Linked DNA regions of Homo sapiens. The gene in region 2 interacts genetically with the main gene of each other region. Each region holds a gene or a part of one and is shown on either strand. Other genes may lie near its edges.

The links.
Region 1: changes in FH (region 2) and COX16 together harm fitness less than expected from each alone (positive genetic interaction), as found in Homo sapiens cells (one large-scale study listed by BioGRID).
Region 3: changes in FH (region 2) and MAPK1 are lethal when combined (synthetic lethality), as found in Homo sapiens cells (one large-scale study listed by BioGRID).
Region 4: changes in FH (region 2) and TOP2A are lethal when combined (synthetic lethality), as found in Homo sapiens cells (one large-scale study listed by BioGRID).

The regions. Positions count from the first base shown.
Region 1 is NC_000014.9:70,324,581-70,328,683, forward strand, and holds the end of COX16 (cytochrome c oxidase assembly protein COX16 homolog, mitochondrial isoform 1 precursor), read right to left. Parts: intron 1,870-4,103; coding exon 1,753-1,869; 3' UTR 501-1,752; downstream 1-500. Other genes in the region: SYNJ2BP-COX16 protein, read right to left, coding at 1,753-1,869.
Region 2 is NC_000001.11:241,502,756-241,506,255, forward strand, and holds part of FH (fumarate hydratase, mitochondrial), read right to left. Parts: intron 3,414-3,500; coding exon 3,248-3,413; intron 1,491-3,247; coding exon 1,287-1,490; intron 1-1,286. UniProt on the Homo sapiens protein: Catalyzes the reversible stereospecific interconversion of fumarate to L-malate. Experiments in other species have demonstrated that specific isoforms of this protein act in defined pathways and favor one direction over the other.
Region 3 is NC_000022.11:21,787,646-21,791,145, forward strand, and holds part of MAPK1 (mitogen-activated protein kinase 1), read right to left. Parts: intron 1,164-3,500; coding exon 1,049-1,163; intron 744-1,048; coding exon 612-743; intron 1-611. UniProt on the Homo sapiens protein: Serine/threonine kinase which acts as an essential component of the MAP kinase signal transduction pathway. MAPK1/ERK2 and MAPK3/ERK1 are the 2 MAPKs which play an important role in the MAPK/ERK cascade.
Region 4 is NC_000017.11:40,393,897-40,397,396, forward strand, and holds part of TOP2A (DNA topoisomerase 2-alpha), read right to left. Parts: intron 2,570-3,500; coding exon 2,387-2,569; intron 1,644-2,386; coding exon 1,553-1,643; intron 1-1,552. UniProt on the Homo sapiens protein: Key decatenating enzyme that alters DNA topology by binding to two double-stranded DNA molecules, generating a double-stranded break in one of the strands, passing the intact strand through the broken strand, and religating the broken strand.

The DNA.
Region 1 (4,103 bases), on a different chromosome or scaffold from region 2:
TTGCATTTCCTTCATAGTGATGTCAAACATTCTTTTCAGAGCTAATTTGCTATCAGTGTATCCTCTGTAGTGAAATGTTTCTATGTTTTTTGCCCATTTTCTAATTGGATATTTTTTAACTGAGTTTACAGAGTTCTTTACTCTAGGTATGAGTCTTTTGCCAGATATGTGGTTTACATGTGTTTTCTCTGTCTATATTTTTCATCCTTTTAACAGGGCCTTTGGCAAACAAAAGCTTGTAATATTGATGTGTCAATCTGTCAAGTTTTTCTTTTATCAATATTCTTTGGTAAGAGCTATTCGGTAAGTTGAAGCCTTTCTCCTGTGGTTTTTCCTAAAAGTTTTATACTTTTATGTTTTACATTTAAATCAATGATCCTTTTTTGAGTTACTTGTTTAATGAGTGAATAATAAGTGGAGACTTTTTTTCTCTGAAATCCAATTGCTCCCCCAGATAACTATCTTATGAATCATGTCTATCACAAATTATCACTAGATAATCAACTTAATTTACTTTTTATTAAAACCAACCTGCTGAAAAGAATACAAATTTTGACTAGGAGGAGAAAGGGGGAGTGGATTTATGATTTTATGGCAATTATAACAGGAGTGTTTCAATGGAGACTTTAGGCAACTAGAACTCAGCATGAAACCAGAAGGTAGAAGCTGATAAAGGCAGGGGTAAAAAGGAGAAAATGAGTTCAAAACAACTAACTTTCGGCCAGGCGTGGTGGCTCACACCTGTAATCCCAGCAATTTGTGAGGCCGAGGTGGGCGGATCACAAGGTCAGGAGATGGAGACCATCCTGGCTAACGTGGTGAAACCCCATCTCTACTAAATACAAAAAATTAGCCGGGTGTGACAGCATGTGCCTGTAGTCCCAGCTACTCAGGATGCTGAGGCAGGAGAATGGTGTGAACCCGGGAAGCAGAGCTTGCAGTGAGCAGAGATCGTGCCCCTGCACTCCAGCCTGGGCGAACAGAGCGAGACTATGTCTCAAAACAAAACAAAAACACTAGAGGGCAATTTTGCATGCAAATTATGCTAAGGCATAATTTTTAGTATTATCTTAGTATTTCTCAAAATGTAGTCATCTATGGATTTACTGAACAAATTTGCCATATCTGCTTATAATCATACACTACTTCATAATTTTTGACAACCATAAATAATATAATTTCCTTGACATGTTAATGGTATCATTGTAATTATCATGTGATGCTTTGGAGACTGATTATCATACTATGTGAGGCATTACAAAGAAAATCAAGACTCTTAGCAGACTGTGATCATTTTTCTTTCCCTAATAGATATGAGAGAAAATTACTGCTTGATTTTACTGTGAGAATTTGGATCCAGACCTACTGTCCTCATTAGGAATCAGAAATCAGAGAATCAGAAATCAGAATGAAATATCAAAATGATGCCCTAATGGCTATTGCAAAAGGAATATGTGGGTAGTTGGAGAGTGGAATACGTGACTCTGTTTTTGGAGCAGTATTCACATTTTTTATTTCGAGGTGTAAAATATACGTGGCCAACATTGTTACTTTCATCCACAGATGGAATAGCTGGGAAGTATAAAAACCTGTACATGACCTTTAGTGAAGATTATTTGTCATCAAATTACCCATATCCAAGTTTCCATGGGCCTGGAATTTCCTTTCCACTTGATAGAAGTATATATTAGGAAGTCCAGTTAATAATATTTTTATTTAAAAAAAAAAAAAAGGAAAAAAGAATCAGCAGAGTCAAGTTGTCTTAGTCTTAAGGCTTTCTGGATTTCTTCCTTGGAGGAGGTCAGGATCTTCCCAAGGCCTGGGTCCTCGAATATTCTTCCAGTCATCAAACTTGGAGTCTTTGATTTTCTATAGAACCACAAAAAATTAAAGTATAAATATTAGTATAAGAGCCTGTGGCTTTGATTAGGACACAACTAACTCAATGAATAAATGAGTAGAAAGTATCCGATAGGTCCTCGATTACAACTGTAGCAAATAAATCAACTACAATCATTGATGAAATGTCATCTTAAGATTTAGAACTTTTCATTTGTTACTGATGTTAATGCCTATCTTACGCCACCTTAACCGTAAAACTATTAAAATAGAGAAAGAGTCTACATGCCTTATTTTTGAGAGGACAAGGAAAAGGCTGAAGCTGGGAAAACAAAAGTACAAATCTGAAGGCTGATCCAGCACAGTGACTGAAAGGGTTATCAGGGATGATGGTAGAAAATAAGAAGAAAAGAACAAAGGGTGGAGACCCTAAAGTCTTCTACAAAAAAGAAAAGAGACCAAGATCATTTGTCTTACGCCTGGGCTTAGGAATGAAAAGACTTTCCTACAGCTATCTATCATAAGCAAAACACTTTTGGGCAACTGAAACTAACTGCAACTACATTATGGATCATCCTACCTTCATTTAGTCTGAAGTACCTCTCAAGCACAAAAATAGTTGGAATAAAAGGGAAGAAATAAATGTTTCTTCACCTTTCTCCTACTGACCACCACTCTGACATTAACTTTTACATATCTGCTGTTTTGGTTGTTCTGAAATAATTGAGTAAGATGGAAAAAAAAAGCTGTGAAAACATAGGATAGCTTATATCCAGAGACAGGGAAAATGGAATAAATTTACCTTGACACTTGGATACTAAGCATTACTCTCTTACTAACTAGCTATATAACCTTTGGAAAGTAATTTAAGCCACCTGGGCATTAACTCTCTCATAAGTAACAATGAAAAGGTTGGACCAAATACTCTACATTTGAGAGTCTTCAGCTCTCAAATTCTACAGGTCCTAGAAGAACTAGAAGGAAAATCTACTCCCAGACAAACTCTTCATAGCATCATTACTGGTATAGCACTTGTAGAACTACAAGTTAGCAAGTTACAGGATTTTTTTTTTTAATCAATGGGAAAGTAGTAAATGAAAATACTGTTCACTTATAGTTTTACCAGGAGTCTGTATTACATATATACATGAAGGAACAAAATTCAACTAATTTAGCATACAAGAAGAATTTAGATTATTTCATAAGTATAGTTATGAAATGATCTAAAGTTATTAAAAGATTTTAATAAAGAATAATGGCCATTATCCAGGTAACGTAAGATATGTATGCTTAACAGAACTGAAGAAAATTCTTAAATAACAAGTTCATGTAAAAGTAGTCTAGCCTTTACAGATCTTTGGTGAAGGAGATTCCTTGTAGAATTCTACAAAACGTGCACAGTGGCTGAAGAATGGGCTATGTAAATGTGCTGAGAAAAACCACCCAAGACATAACACTTCACAGCCAACTGGTATAGGCCTGAGTGTGGAACAGCGTCAAGAAATGCTGAGAAAAAACAGTGTCAAGAATATGGAGTTTCCAGGCCTGCCAGAGTGGAGACCTTTCTTTTAACATTTTGTTGCTACCCTGACATCCACCTAAGACACCAAAAGGACTGTTCTTCAGGAGTAAAAATTATGCCTGAGAATAAGATTTTTTTTTTTTTTTTTTTTTTTTTGAGACGGAGTCTCGTTCTGTCACCCAGGCTGGAGTGCAGTGGCGCGATAAGATTTTCTTTAGACTCACCCCAACAAAGCTTAAAGCCAAGCCTTGACAAGATTCTCTGGGGAGATAGTCTGGAGATTGAGTCCCAACAAGGGAGAAGGGCCAAGGAAAGATAGCTAGCCCTTCAACAGATACTTCCCTACAAAGCACAAAATGAAGTTTAAGGTGATTAGCTAACAATTAAATTGTCAAAATAAAAATCAACACTCTTCAGAATTTTCTTCAGTGTATTATTCACAATGACTACCTTTCAATACAAAATGACCAGACATATACAAAGAAACAGGAAAATATAATCCAGTCAAAAAAATGACAAACTCAAAGACATGAAGAACATCCTCACCACATCCCATAATATAGCGTGCTGTTAAACTCCTTGATTTTTGCTAATTAGATGGGTGAAAAGTGATACCTCGTTAGACTTTGACATTCCTATTATGATAAATTGAGCATCTCTTCATATGTTTAAGAATGATACTTATTTCCTTTTGTCCAAAAGTTTTACATGCTATGCTTTCCCATGTTCTTACTGAACAAAT
Region 2 (3,500 bases):
AAGGCTAACGAGTAGCCACAACTACACATTAAATATAGTTCTCCACCTTCATGATTTTCATTCATTCTATACATATTTATGGAGCCAGGCACTCAATATACAACACTGAATAAGAAAGATGCAGGCCCTGCCCTCGCAGAACTTGGAGGCTAGGGAGAAAGAGCTGGCAATTATAAGGGGTAAATACAGAGTAGTGTATGCTGCTATCAGAACACTTATAAAAGCGACCCTTCACTAACACATGGGAGGCTTCCTAGGGGAAGGTGATGCTAAGCTAAAATTTTCCTATTTATCACGAGTCTCTGGAACCCCACTACCCTGCTCACACTCCTTGGACAAGCTCCAAGTTTGAATCAAACAACCCAGATTCCTCTGACCAGTACAAGTTAACACACTGGAAAGATTATTGGGTGGATTATTGCCTTTATCTGTGACTCCCCCAGTTCTCTTTCTTTTGGCAATCACCCTGGATTTGCAATCAACTAAACCTTTATGTCATTCTTCAACATGAAGTACTTTAAAACAAAATTTCATCTCTTCTTATTCTACAGATCCATAATTTCCATAAAAATCTAGAGTCAGGCCTTTCTCACTATTAAAAGTTACATTGTCAGTTTTAGCCCAAGCTACAGTGGCCTTTATGGATCTCAGTTCTGTCATCCATAGTATTGCTATCCCAACTTTGTTAACTGTTAATATGATTAGCATGTATTCTCTTCCTTCACCCTCAGTCACCAGTAAAGTGTTGAAGGGCAGAGCCCTTCAGCTTGTTACCAATATATTCTTCTAGACTGAAGTCACTTCATTAGTCACTTCTGAAATGTCACTGTTCACCCAGCTACATTCATCTGCCAGCACTGCCCACGCTTCTCCACTGGAATCAATGACTATCATGCGAATCTATCAAATGACTTGCTGAAATCCAGACATACACTGTTGTGTCACTTGCTATATCTAACAGGCATATAACGGAATGCAAAAAATGAAATAAGTGAAGTTTGGTATGACTTCTTTTTATTCAACCCGCGCTGATCACTTTAACAGCCTGCTCTACATTTTCTAATGTGGGATTCGAAATACTTGCTGCTAAGTCAGATTCTTTCTTCCTATCTTGTCAGGTGACGTGCCCAGCAGTCCTGACCAGAGGACCACAGACATGCTGGAACAGTGCGCCTTGCGCATCCAGCTGCGGGATAACTTTAAACAAAGAGAGACATGGTCCATAGCTAAGAATGCCTAGGACCTAGTCAAGTTTTAGCTCCAACATTTACTAGCTATGTGATTACCTGGCATGATACTGCTTCCTGGTTCATTTTCAGGCAAGATCAATTCTCCCAGACCTGACCGAGGACCAGAACCCAAAAATCGAATATCATTTGCTATCTTCATCAGACTGCAGGCAGTAGTGTTCATGGCTCCACTGAGCTCAACCAGAGCGTCATGAGCAGCCAGAGCTTCAAATTTATTCGGAGCAGTGACAAAAGGCAAGCCTAAAGAAAAGAAAAATATCCTAGATGGGTGAACAAGTTAAACTAAACATTTTTCTACCATTAGCAAGTGAAACAGAAAGTTCCAATATACGAAAAAATAAAAATTTTACTTCAGAAAAAAATGTTTACTTAAGACTCAAATTTTGTCTACATTTTTAAAAGAAGTCCTAAAGGAGTAGAAAGAATCTGGTATTACATTTTTTAAGTTTTTTCAGACAGGGTCTCACTCTGCTGCCCAGGCTGGAGTGCAGTGTGGCTCAATCACAGCTCACTGTAGCCTCAACCTCCATGGCTCAGGCAATCCTCCCACCTCAGCCTCCAGAGTAGCTAAGACTACAGGTGCACACCACCACGCCCAGCTAATTCTTTAATTTTTAGTAGAGATGGGGTTTCGCCATGTTGCCCAGGCTGGTCTCAAACTCCTAGGCTCTAGCGATCCACCCACCTTGGTCTCCTGAAGTGCTGGAATTACAGGAGTGTAATTCCACTGTGCTTAGCCAGGCACTACATTTTAAAAAGATGAAATAACAAGTATGATAAATGTACTGAAAGAAAAAACACAATCCTACTGCAAACACACGTATATGATGCCTGACTATGCTTGAGTAAAAAGTATATGGGAATTCATTCTGGTTTATACCACACTCCTTTCCTAATACCTTTTTTCTTTTTTTTTTTTTTGAGACAGAGTCTTGCTTTTTTAGCCAGGCTGGAGGGCAGTGGTACGATCTTGGCTCATTGCAACCTCCTCCTCCAGGGTTCCAGCAATTCTCCTGCCTCAGCCTCCCAAGTAGCTGGGGTTACAGGCGCCCGCCACCATGCCCGGCTAATTTTTTTAAATTTTTACTAGAGACAGGGTTTCGCCATGTTGACCAGGCTGGTCTCGAACTCCTGACCTCAAGTGATCTGCCCATCTTGGCCTCCCAAAGTGCTAGGATTACAGGTGTGAGCCCCCATGTCCGGCCCCTAATACAATTTTTTAAAGTTTCTTTGTCCACTTTACTGTGCTTCATCCTCTCCCCTAGCCAGGAGCCCACAAGATCCCCTATAAAAACAGTGTGCTAAAATGAGTTAGATGTTCTCAGTTAACCCCCATGTTAAAAATTTTATAAATCTACATTTGCCAAACCCTAAAAGTAGAGTTCTTTTCTATTAAAATATGGTTTAAAGACAAATCAGCTGGTAAGCTATCATGTGCAGTGTATAATTATCTCTACCCTAACCGTCTGGTAACATCTACATCTTAATGAGAGTTTTCTGAAGATGACAACTTGGCCCTAATAATAGTTATCATTATCTAAAGTATAATACTCTCTCTACTAAAGGAAAGACATGGTTCAAAAAGGTCAATAATTCAAAGAATTATCACAGCATGACATAATAGGAAAAAAAAGAAATTAAGTCTGTCTACAACATATTTACTATTCAAATAACTTACTCAACACTCAGTTTTTTCTGCCTATTTTGAAAACTGCTATTCAAAACTTTAAAGGGAAATTAATTGAAAACTAACTAGTAAACAAAGCTAACACTGGTAGATTTTAATGGCATGCTGTATAAACTCCTACATGGAACATTTTTTAAAAGGCAAATAATTAACATTATAACTTCAGAAATATACTTAAAACACATGTTTGATGGAAAAATATCATTTCTAACTTTAAATTCACAAGAATTCAAGACAGGAACACTCAGAAAATGTACAGACCACGTATAATGAGAAATGAAAATGAGAAATAATTCACGTGATCACTAACCTGTAAGTGCAGCCACTTTTGCAGCAACCTTTTCTGCAAAGCCAATTCTAGTATTTAAACCTGTACCAACAGCAGTGCCTCCAGCTGCGAGCTCATAGATTCTTGGCATGGCAGCTTTTATTCTTGTCATTGCATATTTTACTTGTTGAACATAACCACTAAATTCCTGAAAAGAAAAGAAAATTAAGGTAAGAATAAGTAATTCCTAATAGCTTACAAGTTACTCTAACTGCATTAAATAGAAATTTTTAAA
Region 3 (3,500 bases), on a different chromosome or scaffold from region 2:
ATGAAAAGGTGTAATTTGTTTGCAGGGTCCTAGACTTCCTGAGACCTAAAAATGTGACCTTAGGCTGAACGCTGTGGCTCACGCCTGTAATCCCAGTTTTGGGAGGCCAAGGTGGGCAGATCAAAAGGTCAGGAGTTCGAGACCAGCCTGGCCAGCATGGTGAAACCCTGTCTCTACTAAAAATACAAAAATGAGCCAGGCGTGGTGGTACGCGTCTGTAGTCCCAGTTACTTGGGAGGCTGAGGCAGAAGAATCGCTTGAACCCGGGAGGAGGAGGTTGCAGTGAGCCGAGATCGGGCCACTACACTCCAGCCTGGGCGACAGAGTGAGACACTGTCTCAAACAAAAACAAAAAAAAAGTGACCTTAATGCAAATTAAAATTAGCAAAGAAACCAAAAGGTGGAGAACTAGACCGTCATTACCAGGTTCCCTTACTGCACTGCCACTGTTTCCAAAAAAAAAAAGGGGGAAGACAACAATTCAGAGTGAGCACTAAAGAAAGCATTATCCAATAGCCATAGGCTCATTTTTCAGGCTAGTGACCTAACAATTTAACAAATAAACGCGAAGCTAAGCCTAAGAAAAAACTAATCAACGAAATAACATTTACCTTTGGAGTCAGCATTTGGGAACAGCCTGTTCCATGGCACCTTATTTTTGTGTGGAAGAGAAAGCAAATAGTTCCTAGCTTTTAAATTTATTATACAATTCAGGTCTTCTTGTGATGGGGATCCAAGAATACCTATCAGATAAAAAAATTAGCTATTAGTTATCAGGACCAAGGTAAATGACTACACACCATCAACTCTGAGTCGGAATGAACCCTGATAATTGATATGAGCCGTTGCTTATCACCACTCCTGATGTTTACCTTTCTTATGTTTTTACACAAAAGTCCTTAACATTTTAAATCAGAGAAGGTTAAAAATTCACACCTACCACAGGTTAAAGAGTATATTAGAACTCTTCTTAATTTAATGAAGTGACTTTGATGTAAGCTGTACAAACTTGAGTAAATCTAGCTCCTGAAGGGCTCGGGAACCTTACCCAAAATGTGGTTCAGCTGGTCAAGATAATGCTTCCCTGGAAAGATGGGCCTGTTAGAAAGCATTTCTGCCAGAATGCAGCCTACAGACCAAATATCAATGGACTTGGTGTAGCCCTGCAGGAGAAAGAGAGAAAAGACTGAAAATGGTATCTGGTGTTACAGGACATGATGAGATCTTCCTGTATGACAGGTGCATTGCTGATGGGACTCTGAACTTCTCCTTTGACTCTACAATTCAGAAATACAAGTAAACAACATGGAAAAGCAAAAAACAATTTGGCTTTCTTATGAGAGGCTGAACAACCAAGATTATGTGATTTTATTTTTCTCTTCATAGTTGATTAACTTGGGCTGGGCACAGTGGCTAATGCCTGTAATCCCAGCACTTTGGGAGGCCGAGGCGGGCGGATCACTTGAGGCCAGGAGTTTGAGACTAGCCTGGCCAACATGGTGAAACCCCATCTCTACTAAAAATACAAAAAAATTAGCCGGGCATGGTAGTGGGTGCCCGTAATCCCAGCTACGTGGGAGGCTGAGGCAGGAGAATTGCTTGAACCCAGGAGGCAGAGGTTGCAGTGAGCCAAGATCGTGCCACTGCACTCCAGCCTGGGTGACAGAGCGAGACTCTGTCTCAAAACAACAACAAACCCACAAAGTTGATTAACTTATTAAATTAGAATTTCCAAAGTATACATCCGTCCTTTTTTGAAACAATTTGAGAGACAGATTTAGAATTGTCATAAATTGGAGCTGGAAAAAGAAAAAAGGTCTAAAAACCTTTTCTGGGTTTGGGGGAGTGTGTGCTAGCTCCATCATATTTTACCAATCTCTTCTAAAATATTCTCAGCTGGGCATGGTGGCTCACGTCTGTAATCCCAGCACTTTGGGATGCCGAGACGGGCGAATCACCTGATGTCAGAAGTTCAAGATCAGCCTGGCCAACATAGTGAAACCCTGTCTCTACTAAAACTACAAAAATTAGCCGGGCGTGGTGGTGGGCACCCATAGTTCCAGCTACTTGGGAGGCAGAGGCAGGAGAATTGCTTGAACCTAGGAGGCAGAGGTTGCAGTGAGCCGAGATTGCACCACTGCACTCCAGCCTGGGCAACACAGGGAGACTCCATCTCCAAAAATAACATAACATAACATATAACATAACATAACATAACATAACATAACATAACATAACATAACATAAACATAACATAAAACATAACATAACATATAACATAACATAACAAATAAAATAAAATAAAAGAATTCTCATCTTCTTTTCCTATTCATTTTTCAGGAATATGTTTTCTTTTAAAGGAATCCTGTTAGAAGTCATGGGAGGATACTTTGGGAGGCTGAGGTGGGAGTACTGCTTGAGGCCAGGAGTTTGAGGCTGCAGTGAACTATGACTGCAGTTGCACTGTTACACTCCTAATAGCAGCATGTGAAAGAAAATGCATTTCCTCATGTCCTCAACAACACTGGGTATTAACTAATTATTATTATTATTATCATTATTATTATTATTTTGCCACACATGGTGGCTCACACCTGCAGTCCCAGCTACTCGGGAGGCTGAGGTGGGAGGATCACTTAAGCCCAGGGATTGGAGGCTGCAGTGAGCTGTGACCGAGCCAATGCATTCCAGCCTGGGTGACAGAGTGAGACCCTTTCTCTAAAAATTAAAAAAAAAAAAAAAAAATCATGGAAGGATTCTGTCTGAATCATAACAATGGTGCAAAAAAGATGTTTCTCCAAGGAATATAAGCTGACTCTTTTAAAATTAAGAGATGGTGTCATCACTCTGTCACTCAGGCTGAAGTGCAATGGTGTAATCATGCCTCACTGCAAATTCAACTTCCTTGTCTCAGGTGATCCTCTCACCTCAGCCAGGTCCTGAGTAGCTGGCACTACTGAGTAGCTGGCACACAGTAGGTGGGCCACAGGCATACACCACCACACCTGGTTGATTTTTAAATTTTTTGTAGAGAAGGGGTCCCACTATTTGCCCAGGCTGGTTTCAAACTCCTGGGCTCAAATGATCCTCCTGCCTCAGCCTCCCAAAGAGCTGGGATTACGGCATGAGGCACCATACCTGGCTCCAGAAGTGCCTTCTAATACAATGAAGTGCTTTTCTGGTATTCATGTTAAAAATGCATGACCCAAAACTGAGGGGCATTCTACAAAATAGCTCATCTGCACTCTTAAAGGAGACTAAAGAAACACAACAACCTGTCTCTATGAAAAGCACAAAAATAAATAAGTAAATCAGCCATGAGCAGTAGCACGTGCCTGTAGTCTCAGATACTTGGGAGGCTAAGGTGGGAGGATGGCCTTGAGCCCAGGAGGCGGAGGTTGCAGTGAGCCGAGATGGTGCCACGGTACCCCAGCCTGGGTGACAGAATGAGAACCCGTCCTTTTTTTTTGAGACGGAGTCTTGCTTTGTCACCCAGGCTG
Region 4 (3,500 bases), on a different chromosome or scaffold from region 2:
AATACAAAAATTATTTGGGCATGGTGGTGCGTGCCTGTAATCCCAGCTCCTCGGGAGGCTGAGGCAGGAGAATTGCCTGAACCTAGCAGGCGGAGGTTGCAGTGAGCCGAGATCTCACTACTACTGCATACTGCATGCCAGCCTGGGCGACAGAGCGAAACTCTGCCTCAAAAAAAAAAAAAAAAAAAGAATGAAGTACTAATATATGGGCTGCCACATGGGTTACCCTTGAAAATGTGTTAAGTAAAGAAGTCAGCTCCAAAAGACCACATATTATATGATTTAATTTATAGGAAATGCCCCTAGATTTTTTAGTGGTCACCCAGTGGAGAGGAGTTGGTGGCAAATGGCAAATGATTGTTAATGAGTTCAGTTTTCTTGGGGGGCAATAAATTGTATTAAAACTGTTTGTCTATACTAAAACCACTGAATGGCATACTTTATTTTTATTTTTGAGTTGGAGTCTTGCTCTGTCACCCAGGCTGGAGTGCAATGGCACAGTCTTGGCTCTCTGCAACCTCTGCCTCCTGGGTTCAAGCGACACTCGTGCCTCAGCCTCTCGAGTAGCTGGGACTACAGGCACGCACCACCACACTCAACTAATTTTTGTATTTTTAGTAGAGATGGGGTTTCACCATGTTGGCCAGGGTGGTCTTGAACTCCTGACCTCAAGTGATCCGCCAGCCTCAGCCTCCCAAAGTGCTGGGATTACAGGCATAAGCCATGGCGCCCAGCCAAATGGTATACGTTAAATGGGCAAATTTGGCATGTGAATATCTCAATAAAGATGTTTCAAAAAAAGTAGACAGTAAAGGCATTATCAAATGATTAACAGAATTATTAATTCTATTTAGTTCATTGAGTGGACATTATTTATATCCGAAGCATGATGTTGAACTCTAGAGATACTACAAACATTACTAATATGTAGTCACTTTTCTTAAGAAACTTTGTATACTAGAACCTCGTAAGTGGCTAGAAAATGAAATCTAATAAACTGGGTATTTTCTTAGATCCCAATTAAGGAATTCAAATTAACAAACTACTTCATTACAAAATATTTTCTATAATGAATCAAATCCCAAGGACGATATTAAAGAGGTCCAGGCCAGGGGCAGTGGCTCACGCCTGTAATCCCAGCACTTTGGGAGGCCAAGGCGGGCAAATCACAAGGTCAGGAGTTTGAGACCAGCCTGACTAACATGGTGAAACCCCGTCTCTACTAAAAATACAAAAAGCAGCCAGGCGTGGTGGCATGCACCTATAATCCCAGCTACTCAGGAAGCTGAGGCAGGAGAATCGCTTGAACCCAGGAGGTGAAGATTGCAGTGAGCCGAGATTGTGCTATTGCACTCCAGCCTGGGCAACAAGAGTGAAACTGTCTCAAAAAAAAAAAAAAAAAAAAAAAGAGGTCCAAGTAGAATTGAGATACAGTCCTCTTTCACGTTTCTCAATTCAACAAAAAGGTTTTGAACATCTATGTGGAATGTACTAGGTAACAAACACAATTTAATCTTCACTTTATACCATTTTTCTAAAAATGTTGTAATACCTGGTTCTCTTTTCTGTTTCTTTTCTAATCTTTGTTTTAGGCCTTCTAGTTCCACACCATCTTCTTGAGGGCTTCCTTCAGTATTTTCATTCTAAAAGATAGCAAAGTTAGGGTTGGATATAGAATAAATTCTGAACTATGGGATTAGAGATTTTATACATTTTTGGCTGGGAGCGGTGGCTCACGCCTGTAATCCCAGCACTTTGGGAGGCCGTGGTGGGCAGATCTCTTGAGGTCAGGAGTTCGAGACCAGCCTGGCCAAGATGGTGAAACCCCATCTCTACTAAAAATACAAAAATTAGCTGGGTGTGGTGATGTGCCCCCAACTACTTGGGAGGCTGAGGCACGAGAATCGCTTGAATACGGGAGGCGGAGGTTGCTGTGAGCTGAGATCCTGCCATTGCACTCCAGCCTGGGTAACACAGCGAGACTCCATCTCAACAACAACAACAAAAAAATTTTATACATTTTTTTTTCAATTTTAAGTGGACATATGCATCAATATTTTATGCATAATATTTTTAAGAGTATTACCTCTTTTTTTTTTTTGAGATGGAGTTTTGCTCTGTTGGCCAGGCTGGAGTGCAGTGGTGTGACCTTGGCTCACTGCAACCTCTGCCTCCCGGGTTCAAGCGATTCTTCTGCCTCAGTCTCCCGAGTAGCTGGGATTACAGGCGCCTGCCACCATGCCCGCCTAATTTTTTTAATTTTTAGTAGAGACAGGGTTTCAACCATGTTGGGAGGCTGGTCTTGAACCACTGACCTCAAGTGATCCACCCACCTTGGCCCCCAAAGTGCTGGGATTATAGGTGTGAGCCACCACAAGAGTATTACCTTAATTTTCTTTTTATTTTTCTTTTCTGCCTCTGCTTTCATTTCTATGGTTATTCGTGGAATGACTCTTTGACCACGCGGAGAAGGCAAAACTTCAGCCATTTGTGTTTTTTTCCCCTTGGCCTTCCCCCCTTTCCCAGGAAGTCCGACTTGTTCATCTTGTTTTTCCTTGGCTTCAACAGCCTACAGAAGGGATATAAGAAAGCAAGTTTAAATGTTAACAAAAACATTACAATATCTAAACACCCAACAGTTAAACTGATTTCATTTTGTTACATCTTAAAAACTAGTGATAAATTGCTCCATAACCTAGTATACTATCAACAATAGTGAAGATGTAATTAAAACACACCTTGAAAAGGAAGGTGTGGAGACAGAAGGACTGGGTTTTATTCCTGATTCTACCACTTAACCTTTTTGAGGAAAACAAGGGAGAAACTAAAAATAAAACATGTATATACATATATATTTGTAAACTCACATACAAAATATGAAAGGAAGTGATGCACACTTATCCAACCAACTGATTACAATGAGCTAGGCATCTATACTGAAGTGCAGTAATACAAATTTGCATGTTAAATTTAAGAAATAAAGCTTTTGGTGGTTTTTTTTTTGTTTTTTTTTTTTTAAGAGACACGCAGGCTGAGTACAATGGTACATGATCATAGTTCACTGCAGCCTTGAACTCCTGGTCTCAAGTGATCCTCCCACCTTGGCCTCCGGAGTAGCTGAGACTATAGGCCCACACCACCATGCCTGGCTATTTAAAAAAAACATTTTGTAGAGATGAGGTCTTGCTACGTTACCCAAGCTGGTTTTGAACTCCTAATCTCAAGTGATCCTCCTGCCTCAGCCTCCCAAAGCACATTGGGATTACAGGTGTGAGCCACAGTGCTGGCCTTTTTTCTTATGTTAAAATAATGTTGAGAAACAAATGTTATTAGGAAGATTTAAGTAACAAATAACCTTCTGAAACCATCTGGATAGCCCTGCTTTCTCCTTTTTTTTTTTTTTTTTTTAGATGGAGTCTTGCTCTGTCACCCAGGCTGGAGTACAGTGGCGCAATCTCGGCTCACTGCAACTTCTGCCTTCTGGGTTCAAGCAATTTTCT